Homo sapiens: one gene and its partners. The protein of the gene in region 1 purifies or fractionates together with the protein of each later gene. This does not show direct contact. Each region holds a gene or a part of one and is shown on either strand. Other genes may lie near its edges. The genes, in order: PACC1, BZW2, ARFGEF3 and TTYH3.

Region 1 (7,427 bases):
TTTACTCTGGGAAGAGTCCTTTCCTTTAGTTCTCTCTCCTTTTCCATTGTAGAAGTCTGCTCTGTTTCCTATGCCTACACAAAGAATCATCTTCCCTTCGCTTCTGTAGAGAATGGTTCCAGGGTCTTTTACCCAGAGGCAACCATCCCCAGCGGCTCTGCATACCTGGGGAGGGTATAGGGTGTGTCTGGCCCAGCCAACAGGCAGTCCAGTAATGACTACCCTGCTCTCTAACGGTGCTGATTCCAAGCTGGGGGTTTGGAAGGAAAGCTTGTACCTCTACAACAGGTCTCTCCTTCATCTGTTTTGGGTTAGGGATTTGCTCTAATTTGTTTGCTCCACCAATCTGGCCCAAGCTGTTTTTTATGCTTTATACCAGTTCCTCAAAATGTCTGGTCCACTGGTGATATCCTTTCTTCACGTGCAAAGCTATTATTGATGTTCTAGTCTGTTCTATCTCATTCCTTAGAGAATCATTTTAGCAGGATTTTAGGAGGGGGCCTAGCGTTCACATACTAACAAAAAAAAAATTAGTGTTATTCTTTCATCTTAAAACCCACTAACAGTTCCCTGTTACCCAAGGGAGCAAGTGTGGCTCTACAGCACGATGCATGTTCTTTTCTCATCTGGCCATTACTCTGTCCACAGCTTCATCACCCATCAGTCTTCCAGGGCTCCTGACCCTATGAAACATTTCCCCACCAACTGCAATTGTGCCCAGAGGCACAAGTACAACATGTCGTCTCTTCCCTTTAGGTCATGGTGCAATTTCCTCTGCCTAGAAAACCTTTCCTTCCCAATTTCATCTGGAAAACTATTGTAGCCCCTTTCAATGCTTTCTGAAGCAAGAATATGAAATGAAAAAGATGAGATGTAAATCAATACAAAACGCCTACCCTGTCTTTGAAACCCTGTGCAGTGCCACTCCTCCAGGGCGCTCCTAACCCCATCCCTCAGTCATCCTTCCCAGCCGTGCTGTGTTGTGCACGACAGCATGGCCAGCCCAGGGCCCAGGAGTCCTTGTCCCCAGACCGACGCTCCTTTACGCTGGCGTATTAATTTCAAACTATGGATTCTCAGGCCCCACCTAAGGAATTATAATTCAGTTGGCTTCACATGGAACCTAGAAATTCATATTTTCAAAAAGTATCCTGGCAATTCTGTCAAGTGGTCAGGTATGGGACCCACTTCGCTATATCGCACCAGCCCCACCCTTTAGCCCTGCCATTCTTCCATTGGGGACAGGGTCTCACCGCACTGTCAGGAATCCCTGAGCATTACTCAGCAAAGGCTGGAGGCCTCACTGTCCTCCCTGAATGCAAGTGAGCCAACCACAGCCAAGTGTCCACATGGCACAGCCGCATGTCTCCTTGGGGACTAAGGCCCCACACTGAGTGAGTGGAAGAAGGACTCCTAGGAAAAAGGAAACTTGGGGCCTTGGGTTGCGGGGCTAACAGAGCAGCTGCCCAGACCCAGCTCAGGCAGACAGGAATTACCACAGTCTGATTGGAGAAGGGGTCCGTGTAGTTGATCCTCTGGGTGGTGCAATTCATGTCACCCGGCTGGCCAGGGCTTGTCAGAGGAGGAATGACCTCGTAATGGTGCTTACAGCTGAGCAACTGGGCCTGACCGGGGTACAAGGCAATACCTGGGGGCACAAACAGGAAAAGCAAGTGTCAGAAATCACACTCCTGACCACATCCCTGAAATCATCTCACACCTACCAACAACCTACGTTCTGGACTCCCTGGAGGACTGCAGGGAAGGGAGAAGAAAAGGGTTTCAGAGGGTGAGGAGCCACATCCCCTGGCCTCAGAAAGCCCCGCTGTAGCAGAGGGCACAAGCCCCTCCTCAGTAAGCCCCTGGCCAACCTGGGATCCAGCCGCCCTGATGCCCACATCAAAACCCACTCCACCTCAGAGCCCCGCTCCACACCCTCCGAAGGAGTGTCTCTTGACTCAGCCCCTGTGCCACCCCTCTGGGCCAACACCCACCTGCAGAATCACTGGGAGGCTCTAAACTGTGGAACTCCTCAGAACTCATTTTGTCTCTTAGACTGGGAGCCCCAAGTGTGCAAGTCACATCCCAAGAGTCCCTCCCTCTTCCCAGCCCAGGCACCTCTACTGACAGTAGCTGTCCAGCCTCAAGGGCAGCAATGCTAAGACAGCAGCACATGGCATCAGAGACAGACAGACTTCAGAGACACTAAGACACCAGACAGAGAAAGTAAAACGTACAGATAAAGAAGACTCAAGCAGACACACAGAGAAGAGGGACAAACACAAGACAGGAAGAGATGGGCAGAGGAGCCATGACCAGCACACCTGACTCTGCTGGAGGCTGGCAGGAAGCCCCAGAGAGAGGGCACCCGGACTCTGGCTCTGCCATGTGAGCAGGCCCTCCCACAGGTTACTCAGGGGCATCTGTGGGCAGAACAGGTGGCACACACTGGGTGGACAGGGCCCAAGTCACACAGCTCATGCCTCCTCATTTACTCTACAGCCCCTAGAACATCCAGTGCCAGCCCTGCAGCCCAGAGCAGATAGCTTGCTCTATAGCAGAGTGGACTCCCCACTCAGGGACCAGACACCCCAGTGAGACAGGTATACCCAGTGTGGCCTGGGAGTCCCTCTCCAGGCAGGGTTGAATGGCCTCGCCTCCCCTGCCATCCTCCCCACCCCACAGTCCAGCCTTGACTCCTGCTTCTCCTCATCCCTGCCCTCTGGCCCCAGCCAAGTTAGTCTCATCCTCTCCAGAGAAGCCCTCTGCCTCCCTAGACACCCCTTCGCTCTGCTGATCCCCATCCCAAAGACACTCTCTTCCCATCTATGTGCTTTTCGAGGCCCATCTCAAATCCTACCTCTCTGCCAAGCTTTCCCTGACCCCTCTAGTAGCCTGCAGTAGCTGCTCCAGGCTCTGTCCATTTCTGTCCTCAGCACGTAACACACTCCCAACAGCAGCTCCTTGGGCATAGACTCTATACCTAGACTATGCTTGGTTGGACTCCTCTGCCCTGCCCGTAGTACCACAAATACAACGGCAGCTCAGGGAGTATCTGCCAGCTGACACCCTAGATCTGGGGCCCTGATGCCTGGCCCAGGGGCAGGCTCTACCTGGGGCATCATAGCGATCCACTTCCTTGTAAGACACAGACATGACAGGGTGCTTGAGTTTCTCACGAAAGTCTGTGATGGTCCGGTAGACCAGGAAGACGGCCACAGCCATGAGCAGCAGGTAGATGAAGATGAGTAGGACCGAGAAGACGTTCTTCAGGCAGGCCTTGCTGAAGCGGATGCTGCTGGAGGCGGACTCGCTGTCCAGGCCTGACAACAACAAAACACCATGTGACCCAGGGCACAGGGACAAGGTACAGACAGAGATGGCCAGCAACCTCCAGGCCCTTGCCTGCCTCACCAAGGAGGTGAAGTCACCTGCACGCCCAACCTTTCCACCTCACCCCACAAATCATAACAAAGGGCACCTGTAAACATTTACTACACAGCTTCTCTGCCAGGTAGAGGACACCAAGCTGAAGGAGACTTATTCATTGTCTTTAAGGAGTTTACTCTCAAAAGAAAAAAGATAAAAGATAAAAAACGATAAAAATGTTAAAAGAAAAAGCAAAAAACAAACAAAAAGAACAGAAAAAAGGAGTTTACTCTCTAGAGGGATAGGCAGTTACAATCCAACAAGTGAGCTGGCCCCAACCTACCTCTCTGGCCTTATCCCTCACTGCTCCACTTCCCCAGTTCTCCCAGCTCTAGCTCCACCTCTACTCATCGACTTTCTGTTCTTCTGGAGTGCCCTTCTCAACCCGGGATTCCCTCACACTTACCATTCCCTCTGCTTGATTTTCTTTTCTTCCACAGCTGATGCTTCACTCATCCTAAGCCCCGAAAGCTTTTTGCTTGGCATCTGGCTTCCAACAGTGACAGAGTAGCTTGGTCACGCCATCCTTCCATGGAAGCATTTTAATTTAGAAAGACATTTTCTTGGCCAGGCGCAGTGGCTCAAGCCTGTAATCCCAGCACTTTGGGAGGCCGAGGCAGGAGGATCACCTGAGGTCGGGAGTTCGAGACCAGCCTGACCAACATGGTGAAACCCCTGTCTCTACTAAAAATACAAAATTAGCTGGGCGTGGTGGCGCATGCCTGTAATCCCAGCTACTCAAGAGGCTGAGGCAGGAGAATTGCTTGAACCCAGGAGGCGGAGGTTGCAGTGAGCCGAGATTACTCCATTGCACTCCAGCCTGGGCAACAAGAGCGAAACTCCATCTCAAAAAAAAAAAAAAAAGAAAAAAGAAAGAAAGACATTTTCTTGAGGAAGCCTCTCCTGACCCCTAACCTTTATTTGGGCACCTCTTCCTCAGTGTTCCCAGGGAGCCCTGTACGTCCCCTACTTCATCACTCTGCAATGTCATGTCTATACATCTTTTATCCTCCTAGGCTGTGAGTTCCATGAGGGCAGGGATGGGGCCAGTCTTATCCCTAACTGAATCCTTAGCCCTTCATGCTATGCCTGGAACATTCTGCATTTACATGGTGACTGATTGAACACGTCCTGATGCTATTGGTACAACACAACTCTGTCTCCCCTACCTCCCTCACAAAATCCTGAGGCTAGAAGCTAGATTAATCTCTGTTATGGACGAAACTGTATCCCCCACCCTCAAATTCAGGTTGAAGCCCTAACCCTCAATGTGAGTATATTTAGAGACAGGGACTTCAAGGATATAATTAAGGTTAAATGTGGCCATAAGGATGAGGCCTGATCCAATAGGACCAGAATCCTTATAAGAGGAGGAGACACTAGGAGCACATGCACACAGGAAAAAAGGCCATGTGAGGACACAATGAGAAGGCAGCCATCTGCAAGCCAAGGAGAAAGGCCTCACCAGAATTCAATCCTGCTGGCACCTTGATATTGGATTCTCGCTTCCAGAACTGTGAGAAATAAATTTCTGTTGTTTATGCCACTCAACTGTGGCATTTTGTTACAGCAGTCTGAGCTGACTAAGATACTCCCACAGGGCTCCCTGTGCCCTCTCTGCTCCTCAGCTGAAAATGGAGCTCCCTGAGAAGAAGTCCTATTTCCTCCACAGCCCAGCTGAGCACAAGGCTGAGAACAAGGGAAGCATCTGAACGTAAGCCCCAAAAGGTATCTGCTTGGCATCTGGCTTCCAACAGTGACAGAGTAGCAGTGTCACATCACCCTTCCACAGAAAACAATTATAAACTTTGGACAACATATTTTAAATTATTTGAAGGCACTGGGAGAATGATCAAAAGCAGGTAGAAATTGAAAGAGAGGCTACCCTTGAAAGAGAAGAACTGTACTTGGTGAGATTTATACATCTGTAGCTTTTTGCCTAAGAATACATGCCAATCCCTATAAGGCATGGTTCAGAGTGACAGGGACAAAGTTCAGGGCTGGAAGAGCAGCCAGAAAGTTAAGACAAAACCATGAAAGGGAGGGAGCCACACAGGGGGTGAAACTCCCAAATCTGCAACTAAATATATGTTCAGATCCTTGGCTGGAGAACCCAGGGGGGGCCAGCAAAAAGTAACAACTGGAAATTGAAAGAACTGCATGGAGATTTCAACTACGGCTAATGCAGGGGAGATAGGAGTTTAGAGCTTAAATCTTGCCATATTAACAATATGCCAAGAAAAAAAAATACCCTTCTGAAGATCATAACAGAATCCAGAATCTCTATATCATTCATAATGTCCAGTGTTCAATCAAAAATCACTAGACATGCTAAGAAACAAGAAAATGTGACCTGTACTCAAGAAAAAAGCAATCTATAGAAACCAACACCAAGATGACCCAGTGTTGCAATTTAGCAGAGAGAAAATTTACAGCACTTAAAGGAAAATATCTGAATAAGGAATAAAGACAAGATCAATAGAGAAACAGAAACTAATAACAATGGCCAAATATATAGAATTTCAGTTTTGCAGGATGAAAAAGCATTGTGGAGATGGATGGTGGTGATGGTTGCACAGCAATATGAAAGTGCTTAATATCACTGAACTCTACATTTTAATGAGTAAGATGATGAGTTTTACATTACGTGTATCTAACCACTGTAAAAATGTTTCATAAAATTTAAAAAAACAGATGGAAATTCCAGATCTGACAAGAAATAAATGAAATAAAAAGTTCACTGTATAGGCTTAATAGCAAAAGATGGCAGAGAAAGAGTTTGTGAACTCAAAGTTAAATCAACAGAAACTATCCAATTTGAAGAAAATATTGAAGGAAAAAAAAAACCAAATGGAGCCCGGAAAATTGTTACAGTATCTAGCAGTGTAGTGACATGTAACTGGAGACAGAAAATGGGTCACAAAAAATATCTGAGGCCGGGGGTGTGGTGGTTCACCCCTGTAATCCCAGCACTTTGGGAGGCTGAGGCAGGCGGATCACAAGGTCAAGAGATCGAAACCATCCTGGCCAATGTGGTGAAACCCCGTCTCTACTAAAAATACAAAAATGAGCTGGGCGTGGTGGTGCATGCCTATAATCCCAGCTACTCAGGAGGCTGAGGCAGGAGAATCGCTTGAACCCGGGAGGCGGAGGTTGCAGTGAGTTGAGATCACGCCATTGCACTCCAGCCTAGGAAACAAGAGCAAAACTCCATCTCAAAAAGAAAAAAAAAAAAAAAAAAGACTATTGATATTGGGTTCTAAGATGGCTGAATAGGAACAGCTCCAGTCTACAGCTCCCAGCGAGAGAGATGCAGAAGATGGGTGATTTCTGCATTTCCAACTGAGGTACTGGGTTCGTATCACTGGGGCTTGTCATACAGTGGGTGCAGGACAGTGGGTGCAGCGCACCGAGTGTGAGCTGAAGCAGGGTGAGGCATCGCCTCACCCGGGAAGCAGAAAGGGTCAGGGAATTCCCTTTCATAGCCAAGCAAAGCTGTGACAGATGGCACCTGGAAAATCGGGCCACTCCCACCCTAATACCGTGCTTTTCCAATGGTCTTAGCAAATGGCACACCAGGAGATTATATCCCGCGCCTGGCTCAGAGGGTCCCACACCCACGGAGCCTCGCTCATTGCTAGCACAGCAGTCTGAGATCCAACTGCAAGGCGGCAGTGAGGCTGGGGGAGGGGCACCTGCCATGGCTGAGGCTTGAGTAGGTAAACAAAGCGGCCGGGAAGCTCGAACTGGGTGGAGCCCACCGCAGCTCAAGGAGGCCTGCCTGCCTCTGTAGGCTCCACCTCTGGGGGCAGGGCATAGCCGAACAAAAGGCAGCAGAAACCTCTGTAGATTTAAATGTCCCTGTCTGACAGCTTTGAAGAGAGTAGTGGTTCTCCTAGCACAGGGTTTGAGATCTGAGAACAGACAGACTGCCTCCTCAAGTGGGTCCCTGAACCCTGAGTAGCCTATCTGGGAGGCACCCCCAAGTAGGGGCAGAC
Region 2 (7,285 bases), on another chromosome or scaffold:
TCACATTGCCAGGAAGGATTAGTCAAGTAGGAAAACAAATCCACCTAAAATAACTTAGAAATCAAACTGAATTCAACTCAGCTTGTACTGAGCATACACTAGGTGCAAGACACTGGGTTAAACCTGAGAAACAAAGATAAATTTGACCTAGTTAATGTATACTGTAGAATGAGAAGGGACCAAACAGATTAATAATAACTATAATAGAATGCGATGAGAAAGTGCTTGTTTTAGGTATTTTCATGGAGATTCAGATGAAGAAGCAATGATGTCAATTTAGGGGGGCGGTAAAAGAGGGGTCGCTAGAATCCATAAGAAGAGAGAATTAAAGGCTGCCAGCAATGATACCAGTAGCCATGTTGCATATCAATATCCTCCATGTACAAAGATTTTACTTATAACCCTTGCCAAGAGACATGAATAAATGTATTTACTAGCATGTATATTTCCCTTACTGGATAGAGAGGGAGAGATGAACACAAAAGCTGAAGAAAAGAGGTTTTGTTTAAATTGTGTCTGGAAAGTTGAATAGTTCATCAGATCTGGAGAGGAGATTCAGTGAAAAGGGAAGGGAAATCATTCAGAGGAGGAGAAAAGCAGGAACAAAGGGGTGGAAATTACCGGCAGGTTGGGGAACAAGCAGAGTGGTGACCTTAGAGCCCAGTGTGTGGGAGGGCCCAGATGACTGGAAATGCCTGCTGAGACCATGGATGGATTGGAACCTTCCAGGCCAGACCCAGCCCTCTATTCTGTGGCCAGCAGAGAGCCATTCAAAGAATGATGGGTGCTCAATGTTTATTGAACTGGTAGTTCCCTGAATTAGCTAGATGGAGACAGGTGAGAGAGAAGCAGGCTACTTAAGATGCATTGCAATAGCTCTAGAGTGGTAGATATGAGAGGACACATACAACATTTCAAACATTTCAGAAATCATTATTCCAATTCTGACTTGACACTTCCTAATATGGGATTGTGGGCAAATTATTTCCCTTACTTTCTGTCCTCTTATTTGCAAAGTGGGTATAATATTGGCTCATTCCTGGGTTGTCATAACACTAGAATAATTCTATGCAAAGCATCTGGTAGAATATCTAGCACAGACTAAATACTCAATATGAAGTAGCTATCTTATTATCAATAAAACTTCTTTGATGTGAATCTGTTTTAATATGCTCATTATCTAATCTTATCCCTACATTAAATATTTACACCATACAAAACTACTAATGTAATCAATCCATCTAATGAACAGTACCCATTATGAATCTGTTTCTAGAAATGTAAACTGAACATGATTTATTTGCATTTCTAGGTAGATGTTAGATTCTCTTTCAACGTTATTGTCTCTAAATTCACTGGTCATGTATTCAGAGAGCACTAAATACCAACCAAGTGTCATAAGGCATCAAGAAAATAGATAGTAAGCTGCTATCCTCGAGGAACTGACAACCCCAGTGAGACAAACAGGTGTGACCTTCAAGTAACCATGGCCCAGATTTGGCACAAGAGATGGAAATACTAGCAATGAAGTACCCAATTATGTGTATGCATCTGCTGGTAAGATGCTAAATCACATGTTCCAGGAGGTTACCACTCAACTGTTTTTTTAGGTTTGTGGGTTTCTTCCGCATGATACTATGTTATAAATCAATTGTAACTCTGAACTAACAGCATTACAAAAGATTGGTCACTCTCAGGAGCCTTACTACTTGCTTGAACAGCCACATCATTATTAAAGCATCATCCAACAAAAGTATCTTTGTTATACACTGAGATGAATAATTTCAAACCATTTTCATGTAAGATGTTCTGGCTCAGATCTGTCCCAGTCTTTAATGCTGAAGCTTTAGGGGGGAAAAACAGCTGGAGTTTAGGAAAGATTTTTGCTAAAGGCAGGAAATAATGATAAACATATTCCAGGAGATTTCAGATGTTAGTGAAAGCTTCACGCAAAATAAATGCCTAAGGCCAGAGGAAAATGCATTTCGCTTTTCGTATGGCGCTATGAGAAGAAACAGTGGTCCTGGGGATGCTTAACAAAAACCACCTACATAATTACTCAAATATTTCTCTTTGACACATACACGTCTCTTTGACACACATATTGAGAGAAACATCAATACTACTCTGTAGGGAAACAACAGTAAAACATAAACACTAATTTCCAAAGAAACTTTCATTGATGATGTAAATATAAATCTGCACCCTGGAGAAATGACTGATTCCCGCATTTTAGCAAGCAAATCTTATTCTGAAATACACACTTGTATTTACCCCCATCTACCTATGGTCGAAGCTCCAGGCTACATATTACAGTTGAATGAAGGTTGGATTAAGAGGCTAATCTAAGGCTATATATAGGCAGCAACACCAATTTAATCTCCGCCCTCTCCAACCTCCCCACCCTCCACTCCCTATTTCCATAAATCTCAAGATCTGAGTTACAAAGAGAACCGAGAACTCTAGCAGAGCAAAGAAGCCCTTCCTTCCCCCTCCCACAGGCTGTCTCTCATAAACGAAGTATTAGTGCAAGTGTAAATTGTTTCCAAACATCTTTAACAAGCAACATTGGGCGATCAGGTTTTCTTCTACAGCTTCCACAGAGGCCAAAGAGATGACAAGTAGTGGGGAGGGCGAGGATCACCAGCGTAAAAACTACCTTCTCCCGAGTCTGTTCTCACTGACTCGCTAGTAATGGGGCGCTGTCCTTGCGACCCCTACCTAGCCCAGAGCCCCGGCCCCAGCCTCCCCGGGAGCCGCATCTGGCGGTGCCACGCACGAGACCATGTGCACCCGCCACTTCCCACCGCGTGGCTGGCCCCCGCCCGCCCGCCCGCGGTCCCAGGGTCTCCCGAGGCGGCCAAACGTTGCGAGTCGGAGGTCTTCATCCCAGGGCACTGATACCCCGTACGCGCCGTGATGATGAGGTGGAGCGGGGGCTTCTCCACCGCGAGGCAGGAAGCCGCCCCAGGAGGCACATGCTTCCTCCCCGCCAGCTCCTGCCCGATGGAAACCCCGGCGGGGCGGCAGTCGCTACTCTCGCAACCCTCACGGCGCCCCTTGCCTCACCTGGGCTGCTTCTCACCTGTCCGAGGAGGTAGCGACGACGCGCAAGGCTGGGGGCTGCGGCGATTCGTGCAGCAGCAGCGGCAGCAGCAGCAGCAGCAGCAGTGGCGGCAGACAATGGAGGAGTGAAGGACAGACACATTGACATAGACACACGGAACCCGGCGCAGCCCCGCCTCCCGTACCGCCCCCGTCTCCTAGACCGCCCCCGCCCAGACTGCGCCACTCCCGGGGGAATGGTGGGGGTACGGCGACAACCTGGGGCCTCTGCATGCCCCAGAAAGCCGTCGCTGAGCACATAACTGCCAGCTGTAGAATTTTCAATATTACATGTGGCGAAATATTTGAACCGGACAGGATAGGGGAGCGGAACGTGTAGGAGGAATTTAATTCCCCCCTCCAGCTTTCTGCATTTGGTTTTGTCCTCCCAGGTTGCTCCAATGGCGATCTCTCGCTACCGCCTCCTGCGGCTCCTCCTCCTCGGCAGGGCCAATGACAGGCGGCAGGCGGTGACCGCCGCAGGGCCTGCGGAGACCGTCCGCCTGGCTCGCCCGAGCTCGCCCGCTGTCCGCCAGCCCGCGGGAGGGAGGAGAGAAGCGAAGCGTTTCCGCGGTTGGCTACTCAGTGTCTTGGTCTCAAGTTGCCTCATTGCGGCTGGCGTTCCCAATACAGACGCATCGTTTCTTTTTTAATACTCCCTAAGAAAGGGAATAACCTTCAAGCTGGCGGGAGCAATGGTTCACATAAAGAAAGGCGAGCTGACCCAGGAGGAGAAGGAGCTACTGGAAGTCATCGGGAAAGGTACGGGTGCTGGGCTGCGACGCGGCCGCGGCCAGCCTGGCCGGGGGGCGTGGCGGAGCCCGGGGGGCGCTCCTGGCCTGGGTGACCTTTGGCTGCGGTTCTGCAAGGTTTGCAGCCTGGAACCGGGAAAGAGCGTTTCTCCCTTTGGTCTGGGAAAGGTTGCAGGGGCGGAGAGGTGGGGAGGCAGAAGCAGTGCTGGGACAAGAGGGGTAGTTACAGAGGCTCGGCCTCTAAATCCGCTTTTGGAAACGTACGGATTTCCACGCCCCGCCTTAGGTTAATGCGAGCTTCCCGGGGTGTGGACCCCAGTGTGTGAATTCTTCACTGCTCCCGAGGGATTTTGACCGCGGTCAGTCCTGGTAGTTTCAGGTTCTTAGGCGGGTGTCTAAATGACCCTTTAGACTTCCGCAGGCCGAATGATCTGGATCCTTTGCCGATCCCCGCCCCCGCTTGGGAGTGGAGGGCGCCCTTAGGGAGAGGGGTTCTTCATAAGGGTACAGAACTAGGTCTGTAATTTGCTGCATTGAGACTTCCGTATCCAGGGCCTCCCTGGCTTCCAGAAGCCCCGACAGCCTCAGGAACCCTAGAGAGACAAGGAAATTGGCGAGGCCTCCACACCCACCCCTCGGCCCACGTTGCACAGATGAGACCTTCTAATCGCGCTCCTTCGCGCTTTCTTGTCCACTCCCCCAAGGCGTGCCCCACTTCCGCAGTGCTGAGTCCCAGCGGGGAGCCCCGAGGACGAGCCAGAAGCCATATTTCCCCGGAGTCCCCGAGTGGACGTCCCAGAGGAGTTCCCTGCCGAGTCCCGTTACCTGGCAGGTGACATCAGCGTGACTGCATGCTTCTTCTGCACCCTCACGGTGCAGGGATGGTGATGCGTGCGACTCCGGGCAATTAATGTGGTGATTTTAAACTCAATAATAATATAGCCATGTTTGTCCTCGAATGGCAGAGATGCCAGTCATTGCAGCATAAGGCTTCCCAGTTTCCAGTTTTATTTACTTAGTAGCCAGGCTGAAATGTGGAATCCTAGAGAATAAGGCAGATTTATTCTTCATAGCGACAAGGAAACTCCACATGCGAAGGAGAAAAAATTCCGGTTTGAACTCAACAGGTGCTGATGAGCTGAGCCCACCCGATCTGATCTCAACTATTCTAAGTCAGTCACAGCTATATCTATCAATGATGTGTTCTTTGCCTGGAATTTGGGGATTTGGGTTAGAGTTTAGATTGTTGTACTGCATGGTTCTTGCTGACCTATTTGGCATTTCAGTCTTTCAGTTCTTCCTGTCTCTAGGTAATTTCTCCCTGCCTTTGATGGCTCTGGGATTCAATTAAGCAAACATGCAAGTTCTAGCTGTGTGCCAGGTACTGTGCTGGGCAAAAAGGAGACAAAGGATCAATTCACAATCCACCAGGGACAAAAATTCTTTTAGGCAGGACAGAGCTAGTACATGTCCTCTCTCTCTCTCGCTCTCGCTGTCTCTTTCTCTCTCTCTCTCGTTTGTTTGAGACAGGATCTCACTCTTCACCCAGGCTGGAGTTGCAGCTCTCTGCAGCCTCCACCTCCCTAGTGGCTGGGACTACAGGTGCGAGCCACCATGCCCGGCTACTTTAGAAAGATTTTTTTTTTTTTTTTGTAGAGATGGGGTGGTGGGGGTCTCCCTATGTTGCCCAGGCTGCTCTCGAACTCCTGGGCTCAAGTGATCCTCCTGCCTCGGCCTCCCTAAGTGCTGGGATTACAGGCATGAGCCACTGGGCCTGGCCCATCATGTGATCTCTTAAAAGTGAAAAATAGTGAGCAGTTTTATAAATTGAGTCTTTGAGAGGGGAGAAGGGATTCCTTGGATACATTCTCAGGTGTCCATCAGTATTTATTTTGAAGATTATATAAACCTGAATTAATGTGCATTTATTCTGGTTAGTGCTGTGATATTTCTGGGCTCACACGGTGCATCAAGTTGCATGAGTGCACTGATGCTTTCATCGCTTTCATTGGACCATGCCAATGAGAAAAGAACTGATGTGGACCTAGTATGTGATGCATTCTTGTCAAATGAAGGTCTGTGGGACATCACTTGCACTCATAAAGAAAAGTAATGGGAGATATGAGAAAAACAACCATAGCCAACGTTTATTGACTGTTATTGCAAGCCACACATAATTTTAAGTACTTTACATATATTAATGCATTTAATTTGGATGAGCTAGGAATTAATTTTAAGCTATGACAGTATGAGAGACAGCATGGGATAGTGGTTAACCATGCAGGTCTGGTTTGAAATTCTAACTCATTTACTGGTGATGTGGCCTTTGGGCAAGTGACTTTTCCTGAGCCTCAAGTCCTCTGTGTGAAAAATAGGAATAATAATAATACCCACCTCACAACGTTGTTATGGGGATGAAAGTAGTTAGTATAGTTAAAGCATTCGAAATACTGCTTGTGTTTGTGATAAATATAGTAATCTTCACTTTATAGGCAAGGCAACTGAGGAACTGGGAAGTTAGGAAACTTAGTGTCAAACAGGTAAGTGGCAGAAAGTGGCAGAGCAGAGGTATCACAGGGCCCATAGGTAATAAACAGGCTGTACCTAAAAACAAACTAAACAAAACATGAAACAGTACCATAGCAGTCCATACAATATTCACTTTGAGAGGTCATTTAGTTCTAGCAAAACAACATCTGTCAAGTTAACTCAGTTTTAAATGTTACTGATTTTGTAGTTCTGTGTGCATTAAATTTAAAGTAAATTTTTATTTTATAGTTGAAGAAAGGCCATAAGCAAAGTTTATATTTGTGCCAAAAAGAGGCATTTTTTTTAAAGTGGGTGAAGTGAGTTTTTTTTTTTTTCTTTCATACGTTTTTCAACTTTGAAAAACTCTAGATGAGACAATAAGTTCTAGTACTTTGAACTAACAACTTTTCAGCAAAGTCTAGCCTGGCATCTTGGTCAATCTGAAATAAACTCGGCAAATATTTAAGTGATTCCCATCTGCCAGCCACTGCTCTCCAGAAAGACAGACTCTAAGTGGGGCTTTTTATTTATTAGAATGCCAAGAAGTTCCAGATGAAAATGAAAATCTGTTTCCAACATACCCATTTAAATCATAGTTAATGACAGCATTCATTTAACAGTATGTAAGAGGAAATTGAAATCACTGAACTGTGTTTAACTGGCTTATATGACTTGTAGAGTTACCCATTCTTCTAAGCTTTGATACCTTTTTCATTAATCTCAGAGCAAGCACTATTATGAAATAAATTAAACCTTTTTTAAGGCTATGAGCTAGATAATTTTCACATTACTTCTCTTATTTAGTACCTGAAATTCCTGGGCTTACTGTTGCTAACAAGAAAGTATTATACTTCCTTTTTTTTTTTCATATCTGTGTAAAGGAGCTATGAAACAAGTTT
Region 3 (7,500 bases), on another chromosome or scaffold:
AGGGTCTCAGAGGGGGATGACCTCTCTCTCCTAGGAGGGTCTCAGTGGGGGATGCTTCCTCTCTCCCATGAGGGTCTAAGTGAGGATGACCCCTCTCTCCCATGATGGTCTAAGTAGGGGATGGCCCCTTGCTCCTATGAGGGTCTAAGTGGGGGATGACCCCTCTCTCATGAGGGTCTACGTGAGAGGTAACCCCCCTTTCCCATGATGACCTAAGTAGCGGTTGACCTCCCCATCACATGATGGTCTAAGTGGGGGATGAGACGTGTTTTCCTGAGATGGTCTAAGTTTATTGTTGCCTCTTTTCATGAGATGGTCTAAATGTGTTGATTCATGAGCCCAAAACTGTGGAGACCCACGCAGAGCATGTCAGTCAACCCACAAAGAGCAGGACAAGATCCCTGAAACAGTGTCTAATTCCTAAATCACAGCTATTCTTGTAAGGGGTATTTTAGTTAAAGGAGTAAATAAATCCCGTTTTGTATAGCTCAGCTTAAACTAGCTTTTTTGTCTCTTGCACCCAACATATTTGTCAATTACACTGCCCGTAAGAGCCTACCTGTGCACACAATCAACTATTATCCAAAATAGTAGGTACTCTAAGAGAGTCATCAAGGCAAGGATCTGAACCCAGACAAACAACTTATCCTATTGAGGAGCTCAGGGAATGTTTCCTAAACAAGATGGACCTTGCCAAGTCTGAAAAGGGAATTCCCTACAGAAGGACTAGCAAGAGCAAAGGCAAAGAGAGAAGTGTGCCACACAGCATGTTCAACAAAGTGCTGCAGCTGACTGCCACTAGATTGTTGAATCTTGGTTGGGGAGTGACAAGAACAGAGGCTGGGGCTAGATTCTGAAGAGCATTCTGAGGAATTTACACATTAATCTAGAAATAAATTGGGGGGTTGAAGAGTGACAGGTGTTTTGTAATCTAAACAGTGACGGGCAGTGGAAATGGACTGGAGTGGGAAAGGCAACAGGAAAACCTATCCCTATAGGCCTTTGTTCATGTCTCCAGCATGCCCTTCTAACAAATTCCTTACAGGGAACATTTTATTCATCCATATATCCCATTGCTCATTACCAGGGAGGTCTTAATAAATGTTTCCTAAATAAAGAAGCGACGGAAAGAAGGAACCCATAGCTTCCCCATTCTTCAAGTGAAATCTACTTCAAAAGCCCCACCAGCTCACACCAATTCTCCCCCAATCCATGGACAACACATTTATCCTCCCTTCTTTGACTTGTTTTCCTGGTTTGCCCAATCCAACTGCACAATGAATGCCCTGCACTATTATTTAACTATTTCATGCACTTCTGTCTTGTCTTGCTAATGACAGAACAATCACTGGGAAAGGAAGTACATCCACTCAGGCTGGTTTCTTTCAGATTTGACTCGAAAAATTTACCTGCCTCAATGCTCAGCCTCCCCAGTGGCTTTAAAGGACCTAAACTCAGCAACGTTGTGGTTTCACTTAATAAGATGTTGATGTCAGTATTTAAACTTATTAAAATACTAGATTAATCTCCTCCTCCCTGTTTATCTAAATCTGCTTAATTTGCAGCAAAATAATAACGAATACTAGGAATGGCATGTTTAAAGCACAATTGGGCCCTGCTTTATCATGTTACCCAGCCATCTGTGACCCTTCATTAGAGGCATTTTGGAATCTAGCTTCGAATCACGCTGCTGAATGACAATGGCAACGGCAAAAATAGTACTGTGGCTTTAAGAGCCTTGCTGTTCTCTCAGATTTCTGGTCCATTTTTCTTTAACAGTAAGCTAGAATGGTCAAGTGCTGGTTCTACCTACAAGACAAACTTCCTAGACAATATTCTAGACAATTTTGTGATGATAGGCACAGGTTTAAAAAAAGATGCTGCTATAATTACCTGTACACACACCCAAACATATGTGAATTAAGACCATCTACATATTAAGAGTCACCTAAACCACTCTCAAAATTTTACATTTAGTGGAAAACCTGCTAAAGGCTCTTCTCTATCTCAGGCTGCATCAAAGCACACACAGTGTCATGACAGACAGTGATGGTTCTTGGTTGCAAGGGAAAGGGAGTCAATTTCATTTTTCAATTGAGTGGCAACTGAGGCATCACATCAGGCTCCAGCAAGGCAGAGAGAGGAGCCCATAGAGCTAGCTGCGCTGGCTTCTTCTTGGCCTTTCCTTTCTAAAAAGCATCACCATCACCCAAAGTATGCTTCTGATCTATTTGCATTACCATCCTGACCATTTTGATTGCCCAAACCCCGCCTAACTGAAATGTCTTTCCGTTTTTTTCCGCTGCTGAGTTCTGCAACCTGAGTCTGATGAGAAACACAAATTTGCTCCCTGGAACTTACTTCAACGCTAGCACAGCTCACAGCCCTAAAATCCCACCTGTCTGAAGGGCAGACCACAACAGAATTGCAGAGGTAACATGATCCCCGCCCGTATGTTATTTTTCATGTGCAATAACCAGGAAAGCTAACACTAAGCAAGCTGACCTCTATCAGGAAAATCAAATTAAACAAGCCTTTCCTTCCTGGTTCCACTCGCCAAGGATTCGACATCGGGGTTGTTGGTTTAACTTCCCTTTTCCCCAGAGGCGCTTCGCTGTCAGGCCCCAGGATTCGCACCGGCTCCGGGTCCTGCCTAACTCGGCGATGGGGAAGCATCGTCCCCAGCGCCGGGACCAGGAGAAGGGGGCCGCCAGGCAGGGAGGACAGCGGTTCCCGAGGAAGGTTTCGGAGAGTGAAAGAGACCGGAGGGGAGGCGGCTGATGTCCACGCCCGAGCCAAGACTCTCAAATCCCACATCAATTTCCCGAGGCGACTCTCGCAATCGCCAGAACGGCACCCATGACCGACGCTCCGCGAAAGCCCCACGCGCGGAGGCGCGGGTTCAGCCCCGGCCGCGCGGCCCTCCCGCCGCGGCGAGCAGGTGCCGGACGCTTACCCAGGGCCCAGGTGCAGCTCTCCTTGATGGCTTTGTACTTGCTCCCGGACGCCTCCTTCTGCAGCTTCCTCAGGATTTCTTCCATCTTGACCTTCCAGGCGCCGGGCCGCCGCCCACAGGGAGAGAAGCGCGGGCGAGCCGGGCCGGGGAAGCCGCCGCTGCCTGGCCCTGGGCGCCTAGGCGGCCGCCGCGCGCGCCCCCATGCCGCCCCGGCGCGGATGCTGATGAATCACGCCCGCTCCATGCCGCGGGCCACGTCAGCCCCGCGCCCCGCCCGCCGCCCCGCCCCGCCCGCCTGGGTCAGGTGCGCTCCGCTCGGCGGCGGCTGCGGGCTGGGGCCGGAGAGTGAGGCTGGAGGCCGCTGACCTGACCGCCGAGGCAGGCCCCGCGGGCGCCGCGCTTAGCGGAAAGGTGGGGACGGATGTCCGGAGCTGGCTCGCCAGCCGCCGGGAGGGAGCGCCTGGTCCGCGGCGGGCGGCGGGAGGCAGGCGGGGAGGGGCCTCGCCGCGGTCTTCGCACCCCCTGAGCCGACGGTGGCCGCGGGCGGAGTCGGAGCGGCCCAGCCCGGACACCGGGACCCCCAGCGTGGTGCAGGCGCCGCGCCCGCTGCATCCCGTCGTCTGCTAACCGGAAAATTCTTGCGTTCAGTCACTAACAGCTTTTTTGGGCCACTCCCTGTGCCAGGCTCGGGCGATGCAGCGTTGCACACACTGTGCCCCTGCCTGCAGGGAAACTCCAGTCAAGCTTTCAACACGCGGCGGGCGGTGGGCTGCGGTGGGGCTGGGGTAGAGCTTGATATGCCCAAGGAAACCAGGCCCAGAGAGGCTGGGTTACTTCCCAGACCAACAAGAGTTAGACTCCAAACACGTCCTGAATCCAAAGCCCCTTCTAAAAACCCCTATCTCCTCCCCTTCCCATCCTCTCTTGCGCTGAATTGCTGCCCTGTGAAAAATGTGGTGCACAAGGGCCGCCGCAGCAGAGGGCTTCTCATTGGGGTGAAAAGGGGGAGCCCCAGGAGACTCACGCGGGCGGTGGGGAAGGCAGTGTGACAGGGCACCCCGTGTTTCCTTTTTCTTTGAAAATGTTCCTGTGGTGGAAGTGAGGATGATGGACTGCAGAGGGGCAGACTGGCAGCTGGGAGAACAAAGGTTCTGCAGGAATCTAGAAACCAATTAGGCCAAGGGTGGGTAGAAGGGGAATAAAGGAAAGTATGTCAAGAGATATTGAAGGGTAGAAACAATAGGATTTAATGACACAATAGGGGAGAGACGGTGTATATGGGATGGCTTCCAGGTTACTTGTTTAGGAAATTGGGAGGATGGTGGCCCCATTCTTTAAAGAAGAGAAGATAAAAAGGGTTTGGATTAGGGGGGATATATGAGTTCAGTTTTGAACATGTTCAGATTGAAATGATAATGAGATACTTGTAGATTTTTTTTATGGACAGGAACTCAGGATAGAGCTCTGGGAGGGATGCCAGTATTTGAAGGGTGGTAAATATAGGAGTTGTTGATGCCTCGAGTTTGACAAAGGTTGCACAAGAGAGGGAGTGACGGCCCCCCTAATTCTCAAATCATGGGTACAGGAGCAAGGGCCCAGGGAGGAGGCTGAGAGGAGCAGTCCGAAATCCGAGGTGTAGGGGGTCAGCCAGGGGAGGGACTGCCATTGGAGGGTGTCCAACACATGGGGATGTCAGACTACTCCTTCGGCGCTCTTGGTACTGAGGAGGCAAAACCTACAAAGTCCCAGCCCCCAAGGATGCTTCTACCGCTACCCTCACGCCCAGTGAAGCCATCATTTAAAGAAAGGTTTAAAAAAAAAAAAGTAAAAACGCCGCAGCAGATAATGTACTTGGGTTAAAGAAAATTGTTAACTATTTGGAAAAATATATAGATCACAACTTTATATCGTGTAGCAAAATAAATTACAAATGTATTAAAAATTAAATTTAAGAATTAAATGATGAAAAGTTTAGAAGAAAGCATAAGTGAATATACTTATCTTAATGCATTAAGATTATTTCTAACAAACTAAGGCAGAAACTGAAGGAAAAAAGGTCAATAGATTTGACTATTTGAATATTTAAGACCTTTATGCCAAAAGTTTCATACAAAATTAAAAAGCAAATGATACTCTGAGGGATGGATTGAAGGAAGAAAAGATGATACCTCTAAATCTTAATTATATGTGGATTTATATTTTTGAATCTATTTTAAAGTATTTACTAGTTTTACAATTAAAAACAATTTCGTTTAAGCTGCAAACTAGGAAAATGTTTATATTAATGTCAGACATATAAAGTTTGAATAGCTTTGTTAAAAAAAAAAAGCTTTAACAAAGAATTAAAAAACAAATGCTCCTTCTTTTTTAAAAAAGCCAATATATATAAAGTCAGTTTACAGAGGAGAGAATACATATGACCCCATAAACTTATAAAAAATGTTCAAGTGCCTAATAAAGAGAACAAACTTTTAAATAAGATGCTATTTTCTATTAATCAAATTGACTGAGAGATTTTTTAAATGTTATTGAAGGAGCTGAACAACAAGGTCCTCTCATGTCTTGGGTGCTGGTCAGAGTGTAACTTGGTACTACATTCCTGGAGGGAGGGAGCCTGGATGTGTATGTGGCATAGGTATAGCTTTGACCTAACAATTCCACTTCTGGGAATTCATCCTAAGAAAGTGATTATGGAAATGGATAAGGATCTTTCTACAAGCATTTCAGTGTGTCTTTCAATTCTAAAAAAAGAGAAAACTAAATATGCAACAAGGATATGGATAGATAACCCATGATATATTCATAAAGCATCATATTATATAGCCTTTGAGAATAATGTGGGGGACTAGGCATGTTGGCTCATGCCTGTAATCCCAGCACTTTCGGAGGCTGAGGCAGGCAGATTGGTTCAGCCGAGGAGTTTGAGAGCAGCCTGGGCAACATGGCAAGACCTCATCTCTACTAAAAAAAAAAATTGTTTTTAATTTAAAAAGAATAATGTGGGAGAGAAATATTGAATAATATGAAAAGTGGTGTCGGGGGCAGTGGCTCACACCTGTAATCCCAGCACTTTGAGATGCCAAGGCAGGTGGATCGCCTGAGGTCAGGAGTTGGAGACCAGCCTGGCCAACATGGTGAGAACCCCCCTGCCTCTACTAAAAATACAAAAATTAGCCGGGTGTGGTGGCACATGCCTGTAATCCCAGCTACTCAAGAGGCTGAGGCACAAGAAGTGCTTGAACCCTGAGGCAGAGGTTGCAGTGAGCTGAGATCTCGCCACTGCGCTCCAGCCTGGGCGACAGAGCAAGACACTGTCTCAAAAAAAAAAAAAAAAAAAAAAAAAAAAAAAAAAAGACAGAGAAAGAAAAAAAAAAAGAAAAGTGGCTTATACTATATACTTAAGTAAGCAAATTGTAAAATGCTATGTACTTTTGTATACTACATGATTCCAATTTTATTTAAATATTTGATGTAGATGTATATATAAGTTCAAAAATACATGCATATATGTACATACATATCTATCAAAAGTACATACAAAATATTAAGTGATTATCTTTGATGGGCTTATAGGTGAGTTTATTTTTCATTAAATATTTTTACTTTTATAATCAGAAGTGTTATTCTAAAAAAAAAAGTGGCACAAAAATGAAATAAAAGTAGTATCCAGGCAACAAGGTCAACATCCAGAGAAAGGACAAAGATAAACACAGAAAATGATGTAATGAATGTGAGAGAGTTAGGATCCCGTGGAAGCCAGACCCGGGAGAAATGATGACTGCAGCCTGGTTGCAGTGGATTAAGAGCTGGTGAAATCACACGGATAAACAACCCAGTGGATGGCTATGAAGGAAAGTAAACACCTTTCTACTTTTTTTCTATAACTCACAGTAGAAAATATGCTTTACATTATCATCCAGTGTTTACATACATGTATAGATATGTTAAAAAACTGAAACAACAGTTTTAGGTATAAAACAGTACATACTGTTAACTAGAATAGTTACTACTAAGCATGATTTCATTCACTGCAGCAGGCATACTTGCCTGTTCCTAAATTCATTCTGGGTTGCGGGCATGAGGACAATCACAGTGGTTTGCTCTGTGATGCCTATTTCTTTCCAATGTTTTTAGTTTTGTTGCTTAAAAATTCTGGCTCACACAAATAAGTTGCTGTGAATGCTATTAATAACAACAGTGAACTCTGTTTAGCAATGGAAAGTCTTCTTTAATCTTAATCTAAAATGGCTATAAACTTATAATCATTCTTCAATGTATTAAAGTATTAGAGATTAGCTTTCTTCTTTGAGTATCAACTTTAATATGGATTCAGGATTTTGGAAAACAGATCTTTTATCAATTTTTTCCTCAATATTTCAAATTTCTCTTTTTGAAATTATTAAAGTTTATAACAGAGACGTAATATAACTAATATCATTTTTCTATTCAAAATGTCTTCATTAATTTTCTCTTTATGTGTTACAAAATTGTGCACACATAGTAACCACAGTGATTACTTAAAATGTATTGGTTAGTGTTGGATA
Region 4 (7,729 bases), on another chromosome or scaffold:
GGAGAGAAGGGAGGGAGGACAGAAGGAGGGAGGGAGGGAAGAAGTGGGGAGGGAGGAAGGGCCCCTGGAACTAGGCTGAACCCTGGTTCCCTGACCAGCTTGTGATTCTCAAGGCCTCCCATGCAATGGCGGGGACCGGGCCTCAGTTGCTCCGTCTGTAGAGTGGGACTAAAGTCCAGCCTCCAGCCACAGTGGTTGCAGGACAGATGGGAAGAACCACACAGCTCTGGGCAGTGACTGTCGGGTCAAAGCAGGTGGGATGGTGGGCGGAGCTTCCTCCATGCCCTGGCCCACACTAGATCCTCTCTCTGGCCTTCTCTCCTTTACCCTTCCTGGCAGCTGGAGGGAGGGACCCACGGAGTTTCTCTTCAACACCCGGATCCCAAGCAGCATTGCACGGGGGTGAGGTAGGGACTCTGGCTGTGTTCTTCCAGAACCTTCACTGTGGGCCCCTTATTCTCTCCACCCTGGATCCCTTTTACCAAATTCTTCCTCCACAGGCCCCTTAGGAATAGATTTCATGGCCCAAACACACTGCAAATATTACTCAGTCATCAGTACCTTTTCATCCCATACCATCAGAGGCACAGGGCGCTGGCCACCAGGAAGCTCTGAGAAAGCCGGTGTGTTTGTTTCTGGATTTGCCGTGACAAAGCTCCACAAACTGAGTGGCTTCAAACACAGACATGCATTGTCTCACGGTTCTGGAGGCCAGAAGGCTGAGATTGAGGCGGGGCGCTCTGAGGGAGGGAGCGCCCCAGGCTTCTCTGCCAGCTTCTGGTGGCCCCTCGGCGTTCAGGGCTGTGGCGGCATCCCTGAGATTCTGCCTCCGTGTTCACACGGGTGCTTCCCTCTGTGTCTCTGTATCTCTGAGTCTGTGTCCAAATTTATCTTTTCTTATAAGGACACCATCTTTGCATTAGAGAACACTTTAACCCAGTATGACCTCATCTTCACTGGATTACATTTGCAAAGACTCTCATTTATTTATTATTTTTTTGAAATGGAGTTTCACTCTTGTTGCCCAGGCTGGGGTGCAATGGCGTGATCTCGGCTCACTGCAACCTCCGTCCCCCCGGGTTTAAGCTGTTCTCCTGCCTCAGCCTCCTGAGTAGCTAGGATTACAGGTGCATGGCACCACGCCCAGCTAATTTTGTAATCTTAGTAGAGACAGGGTTTCTCCATGTTGGTCAAAGTGGTCTGGAACTCCCAACCTCAGGTGATCCGCCCGCCTCAGCCTCCTAAAGTGTTGGGATTACAGGCATGAGCCTGTCACCCAGGCTGGAGTGCGGTGGCACGATCATAGCTCACTGCAGCCTAGATCTCCTAGGATCAAGTGATCCTCCCGCCTTAGCCTCCCAAGTAGCTGGAACTACTGTGGTGGCACAAGCCACCACACCCAGCTGATTAAATTTTTTTGTAGAGAAGGGTCTCACTATGTTGTCCAGGCTGGTCTCAAACTCATGGCCTCAAGCGGTCCTCCTGCCTTGGCCTCCCAAAGTGCTCGGATTTCAGGTATGAGCCACTGCTCCCGGCCCCTTTCTTCAAAGAAGGTGACGTTCACAGGTGCCAGGAGTTAGGACTTGAACATATCTTTTTGGGGAACATAATTCAATCCACTACACCTGAGTTATCATTTCTTTCTTTCTTTTTTTTTTTTTTTTTGAGATGGAGTTCGCTCTGTCACCCAGGCTGGAGTGCAATGGCGCAATCTCGGCTCACTGCACCCTCCACCTCCCGGGTTCAAGCGATTCTCCTGCCTCAGCCTCCCGAGTAGCTGGGATTACAGGCATGTGCCACCATGCCTGGCTAATTTTTGTATTTTTTTGTAGAGACGGGGTTTCACCATTTGCCCAGGCTGGTCTCGAACTCCTGACCTCAGGCGATCTCCCCTGCCTCGGTCTCCCAAAGTGTGGGGATTACAGGCGTGAGCCACTGTGCCTGACCCTAAGTTATCATCTCACATCATGTCTGCATCAGACTTTCTGGCTTTATCAAAAGGAAAGGTACAATTTTGCCAGGCTTCTGGAAACAGGGGAAGGAACTCCTGTACCCCCTGCCTGCATGTGTGTACCCTGGCAGGGCTGCCAGGCTGGTGTGGAGGGCACTGGAGTTGTGGTGGGGGGAAGCAGGAGGTCTGTTTGTGGCCATGGGAGCTGCTGCTAACAGCAGGAACCAGAAACGATCTCAGGCCATGAGGACAATTTCTGCAGCTGGCCAGGGACTGCCCTGTTCATCCCTGGAGTTATGCGACACAGAACTCTGAGGTCAGAGTCAGCCCAGGGCACGGGCCGTGCAGGCGATCCCCTGGCTGTGGAGATGAGGTCACAGGCTGGATGCTGGAGCAGTGTCAGGCTAGGAGTGGGCGTCCTGCCTAAGCCACCTGTTCACAGTGAGCAATCAGCTGGCGCCAAAGAAGAGGACTCACCTGGCCAGGTACCAGCCCACTCCAAGTAGGTAGCCTTGGTCTTAGGGGGTTGGGGGGGGCTTCATTCTGCCTGGAGCTCCCACCATCCTTGGCATTGGAGAGAGAGGAACCTGAGCCAGTATCCCCACCCCACCCCAAATTTCTGGCTCTTCGGCCTTTAGGGATGGAGAATGCGACCTCCCCCCTTCTGCCTGGCTGTTATTTCCCAGCTGGGTGGTGTCTCCAAGTTATCCAGCGGGTGGAAACCGCAGCTCAGCTAGTCCCTCTTGCCCGGTGCCCTATCACAGGAAAACAGGCGAGTCAGGGCAGTCAATGAGCCAAAGTCCAGGCCTCCTGGGAAGACACTGCCCGGAACCGTCCCTGCCTGCAAAGAGCTCTTCCTGCCAGGAACGGCCTGCCTGCCCACAGAGCTGGCCAAGTCGGGCACAGCAGATGGTGGAGCCCGGGTGTGGAAACCTGTTTCTCAGTACACAGGAGGTCCAGGAATAAGGCCCCAGGTGATGAAGCAGAGCCAGGATGCACCCACTGCCCTAGAGTGCGGAGGGAGGCGTGCACCTGGGCCCAAGCACGCACTATGTCCATCCTCCTGGCTCTGGCAGCTCCCATCTCCCCTTTAGCAAAGGAGGAGGCACAGGCATGGGGAGGCCCTGTTAGGAAATTTGGCTGTGTGGCTCCAAAGCCCATGATGGGCCCTCTCTGGCAGGTGCCTGAATTTTTAGGCCCCAGGACACCAGAACAGGGCACCGTCTTCATCTTAGGTCTTGACAAAAGACTCAACCTTCCCCAGAGGGAAGGCCGGATGGGGACTGAATCTACCTGCGGATCCACTTAACACTCGTACCTTTTTAAAAAAAATTTTTTTTATTTTTGAGATGGAGTCTCACTCTGTTGCCCAGGTTGGAGTGCAGTGGCGCAATCTCCACTCACCGCAACCTCCATCTCGCAGGTCCAAGCAATTCTCCTCCCTCAGCTTCCAGAGTAACTGGGATTACAGGCGCCCGCCACCACGCCTGGCTAATTTTTGTATTTTTAGTAGAGACGGGGTTTCACCATTTTGGCCAGGCTGGTCTCGAACTCCTGACCTCAGGTGATCCGCCTGCCTCGGCCTCCCAAAGTGCTGGGATTACAGGCATGAACCACCACCACGCCCTGCCAACACTCGTAGCTTTATCATCCCCTTTTACAGACAAGGACACCGATGCACAGAGTGGTTAAGTAACTTGCCCCAGATCACACAGCTCTAGGTGCCCCAGCCAGGCCCTGAATCCAGATCATGTCCATTGTACAGATAGGCCACTCGGTGCCTTGCTGGGCGCTGCGGGCTGTGGGCTGTTGTGTGTGCAATGGGGAGGCCAAGACCAGCCCAGCCCACCAGGCCGGACCCTCGAGTCAAATAAGAAACATGCAAAGATCCAAACGAAGAGCGAATTCATGGAATGAAGCGCAGCTGCATATGCAGCCAGGGTTCCAGCCCCCACGGCCACGTGGAAAGACTGGCTGGCCCGGGTCTTACAGCGCTGAGGGTCGGTCTTCCAGCGCCTTAGGGGCCAGGCGTCCCTCCAAGAAGGCGAGGAAGTAGGCGGAGCTTCTGCCGGCGGACTAATGACGGTACAGAGGCGGGGCCGAAGGGCGGGGACACGTGGAGGGGCGGGGCCATTGGGTAATGGGCGGGGATGCGAGTGGAGGGGCAAAACCATCAGGTAAAAGGACCAATAGAGGTTCAGGAGCGAGTGGGCGGGGCACGCTGTGGGGCGGGATCGGCGGGGGATAGACCAATGGTGGGTAAGAGGCGGGACAGAGGGCGGGGCGCGCGGGGGCTGGGCTGGCGGGAGGCGGGCCAATGGAGGCTCGGGGGCGGGGCCGGCGGGCGGACGGGCGGGGGTGCGGAGGGGGCGGCGGCGGCGGCGGCGAACAAAGAGGCGGCGGGCGCGGGCGGCCGAGCGGAGCCGAGCGCAGCCGAGCCGGGCCGAGCCGGGCCGGGCCGGGCCCAGGAGCGCGCGGATGATGCGGGCGGCCAGGCGGGGGTCGACGGGTCCCTGAAGCCCGCGCCCCGGGCCAGCAAGGGAGCCCCGCGCAGGCCGCGCGCATCCGGAGGCGGCCGGGCCCCGCCATGGCCGGGGTCAGCTACGCGGCGCCCTGGTGGGTGAGCCTCCTGCACCGGCTGCCCCACTTCGACCTGAGCTGGGAGGCCACTAGCAGCCAGTTCCGGCCCGAGGACACCGACTACCAGCAGGTGACATGGGCCTCTCGGGGTCGCGGGGTCAGGGACCCCAGGTCACGGCCCCCTCCTCTCCCAGGGTCACGGCCCCCATCCCCGAGGGCCTAAAGACCCCTCATCCCCCCCTCCAGGGTCACGGCCACCTCCTCCTCGCAGGTACCGGCCTCCTTCCTTCTCGAGGGTCCCTTCTGAGTCCTAGGACCCTTTCTTCCAGGGTCATGGCCTCCTCCTCAAAGGTCTAAATACCCTCCAACCCCCAGTGAGGGTCCACGGCCCCCCTCCCGATTCTGGCCTTCCCTTCTGGTGTCACTAAGGCCCCTGGGTTTCATGGAGCTGCCTCTCCCCACTCCGTGAGCCCCCTTGGCCAGTGGAGGGCCTCTCCACCATCACTGTTGGCGGCCTGGTGCTGTGTCCCAGCAGAGACCCCTCCCCAGATGACCCCCAGGCTCTGAGATCAGAGCGGGTGCCTGAGCACATTGGGTGCAGGCAGGCAGAGACTCCTCGCCCACTCACCCCCGACTGGGGAATCCCACTGCCAGGCTTCCAGTGGGTGAATGGCCTGGGCCGCCGCCAGCCCTCTGTGGCCGGTAATGACCCCCTGCTTGGCGGTCAGGCTGTGGGATGTACACAGGGTGCCGTGTGTGGCCGTGGGAGACCAGGCTGCCTGTAGCCCCCGGGGGAGGGAGGCCCGGCGGCCAGGAAGCACCGTGGGCCTCAGGCAGGGAGGCTGGAAGCGGCTGAGCCCAGGCAGACCTGGGGGGCGGCTGGGGGCCCTTTGCAGCCCTCTCCCAGGGGAGCCCTTAGCCTGGCATCATGCCAGGCCCCAGCACCACCCCCATCGCCAAGCTACTGTCATTTGAGTGCGGGGCAGGGGACCAAGCTGTGGGCATTTCCTTCCTGCCTAGAGATCCGGATTCCAGAAGCCCCGTGACCAGGGTCCCTGGTCACCCGGAGTTTCTCTCTGGACGGATCATGGCAGAGCCCCATGGTGGGGTGGGGATGGCTTTGCTTATCAAAATGGCTTGGGAATCCGGTATTCCGCGGGCAGCCTAGCACCTGGACTCTTCAGAACTGCGTTGTCTGTGGCCTCCCGCATCCAGAGGAGGGAGGCGGAAGTGGAGGAGCAGGGCACCTGGGAGCCCACTGCTCCCAGCCTCGCGCTCACTTGCACCCAGGCCCCCCAGCCGAGCCGATGACGTTTCCTAACAGATGAGGAAGGGGGCGAGGGATCGGCCCAGGCACGCCCAGACACAGCAGGGAGGAGGGAGGCGGAAGGATTGGTATAAAATCTCACGCCTGCGTTCTAGAAGCCCAGCCCTGGGGGACCGTTCAGTGTGGGGGCAATGCACATTCAGGAACTTCTGGAACTTATTCCATGCTGATGGCTTTGCCACTTGTCCCTGGAGGACTCTGTTGAAGCTGCAAGGAGGGTGTGCTTCACTTTGGAAAGTTCTCTGCCCTGAGGGTTTGGCCCATTTGTCAGTTCTTAAGCTCCGGGGCAGCCCTGGGGCGTGGGGGGCGGCTGTTTCCTGCTGCCCCTTGGGCTGCCACCTGCCCGAGCTGCCAGCCACAGTTGGACTTCCTTCCAGCCCTCCGGGGTGCCTGCATTCCCACATTCGAGACAGGCAGTGAGAGGGAGTGAGGGGCGATGATGTCTGCAGCCCACAAGAGCCTCCGGGCAGTAGCCAGGCCCCTCTGCTCAGCCTGACCTGCCTGGCCTCCAGCAGGGTGCTATGGCCCTGGGAGGCCCTGGCTTCTGCCCCCTTTCCTCCCCTGCCCTGCGCTCTGCTCTGCTGTGGGAGGGCTCTGACTCACTCTCTCTCCTGCCTCATCTCCACAGAGCAGAATTAGCCACTGAATAATTCACGATGTGGAAACCGGCCTGCCTCCATCCCCCGCCGCCTCCACTCCCGGCTCTTGGCGAGGGGCTGTGGCGTGAGCTGGTCCTGGCGTGCGTCCTGCCCCTGCCCTTCCAATACTGGTGCTTTTCGGCAACTGCTTGGTGTCTCTGAGCCTTCATTGCCTCATCCTGAATCTGGGCTGGCCGTGCCTCCTGTGTAGGGTCACCCCTGGGAGGCAAGGGCCAGGAGCCCCCTTCCTGGGAGAATGGGCAGTGGGTGGGCCTGGGCTGTGGCAGGCGCCCCTTCCTGCCTCCCCTGGTGAGGAGTTGCTGGCTGTAGTGGGGGGTGGACCCCTCACCCATCCTGACTGAGGGCTCCCTCTTAGCTGTCTCTGTGCTGCCCCAACCTGGGCTGTGCCCTGCTGGGGAGTGGGCATCTGCCCCGTGGTTATGGGGGCGGGGGGATGGAGGGGAGGTGGGGCCTGGGGTTGGGAGTTGGGGGTGTGGCACGGGGGACTGGCCTTTGTCCTTTGCTATTTCTGGCCCCCGTGGTCTGCTGTTGGGAACCCTGGTGAAACCCCCGGAGGGACCAGGGCCAGGTCCTGTTTCAAGGCCCTGCGTGGGACTGCCTGTCACTAGTCACTTTTCCCACAGCCCCAGGAGGTGGGGAGAGTTGTCCATTGTACAGATTAGCAAACTGAGGCTCCGAATCACATAGTGAGTAAGTGGTGGGGCCGCAGCCCTGCTGTAGGTCCCTCGTCCGGCCCCCCGAGGAGCCGGGGTCAGCCTGGAGTCGCAGGCTCCCCGGATTCCCCCACGGCTGCCTTGCCGCTGGGGGTGTGACCGTGGGATTAGAAGCTGATGGGGGCTGAGGGAGCTGTGAGAGGGCAGGGGGTGGAGGGGCATCTGGGGTCGGCTCTGTGCAGCTCCCCAGCCAGTGACTGTCGAGAGGGGCTCCCGTGCTGCCTGAGCATCTGAGTGAATGGGGGGCTGTTGTTCACAGGAGGGATTTGGAGGCCCACAGGAGGCCTGAGACTCCCTGGTGGCCCTGCAGCTGAGCTGGCAGGGCTGGGCCTGAGGCCTCTGGCGTGGCCCGGGGCCAGTCAGTGCTGCATAGTGAGTCCTGAATGTCAAGTGGGTCTGGCTGTCCTGCCCCGGGCAGGGGCCCTTGAGGGCAGCAGAGCCTTCTCTTCAGCTAGAGCATCGCAGGCCTGCACCCTCGCTCTGTCGCTTCTTCCTGCGT

The links.
Region 2: the proteins of PACC1 (region 1) and BZW2 purify together in Homo sapiens (co-immunoprecipitation; 3 studies listed by BioGRID and IntAct, with this or other methods). This does not show direct contact.
Region 3: the proteins of PACC1 (region 1) and ARFGEF3 purify together in Homo sapiens (co-immunoprecipitation; 3 studies listed by BioGRID and IntAct, with this or other methods). This does not show direct contact.
Region 4: the proteins of PACC1 (region 1) and TTYH3 purify together in Homo sapiens (co-immunoprecipitation; 3 studies listed by BioGRID and IntAct, with this or other methods). This does not show direct contact.

Annotation. Positions count from the first base shown.
Region 1 is NC_000001.11:212,383,778-212,391,204, forward strand, and holds part of PACC1 (proton-activated chloride channel), read right to left. Parts: intron 3,324-7,427; coding exon 3,114-3,323; intron 1,649-3,113; coding exon 1,497-1,648; intron 1-1,496. UniProt on the Homo sapiens protein: Chloride channel gated by pH that facilitates the entry of chloride ions into cells upon exposure to extracellular acidic pH. Involved in acidosis-induced cell death by mediating chloride influx and subsequent cell swelling.
Region 2 is NC_000007.14:16,642,089-16,649,373, reverse strand, and holds the start of BZW2 (eIF5-mimic protein 1), read right to left. Parts: upstream 3,194-7,285; 5' UTR 3,086-3,193; exon of another isoform or gene 3,070-3,085; intron 1-3,069. Other genes in the region: ANKMY2 (ankyrin repeat and MYND domain-containing protein 2), read left to right, coding at 3,801-3,867. UniProt on the Homo sapiens protein: Translation initiation regulator which represses non-AUG initiated translation and repeat-associated non-AUG (RAN) initiated translation by acting as a competitive inhibitor of eukaryotic translation initiation factor 5 (EIF5) function.
Region 3 is NC_000006.12:138,157,628-138,165,127, reverse strand, and holds the start of ARFGEF3 (brefeldin A-inhibited guanine nucleotide-exchange protein 3), read right to left. Parts: upstream 3,190-7,500; 5' UTR 3,042-3,189; coding exon 2,957-3,041; intron 1-2,956. UniProt on the Homo sapiens protein: Participates in the regulation of systemic glucose homeostasis, where it negatively regulates insulin granule biogenesis in pancreatic islet beta cells. Also regulates glucagon granule production in pancreatic alpha cells.
Region 4 is NC_000007.14:2,627,618-2,635,346, forward strand, and holds the start of TTYH3 (protein tweety homolog 3), read left to right. Parts: upstream 1-4,368; 5' UTR 4,369-4,538; coding exon 4,539-4,661; intron 4,662-7,729. UniProt on the Homo sapiens protein: Calcium-independent, swelling-dependent volume-regulated anion channel (VRAC-swell) which plays a pivotal role in the process of regulatory volume decrease (RVD) in the brain through the efflux of anions like chloride and organic osmolytes like glutamate.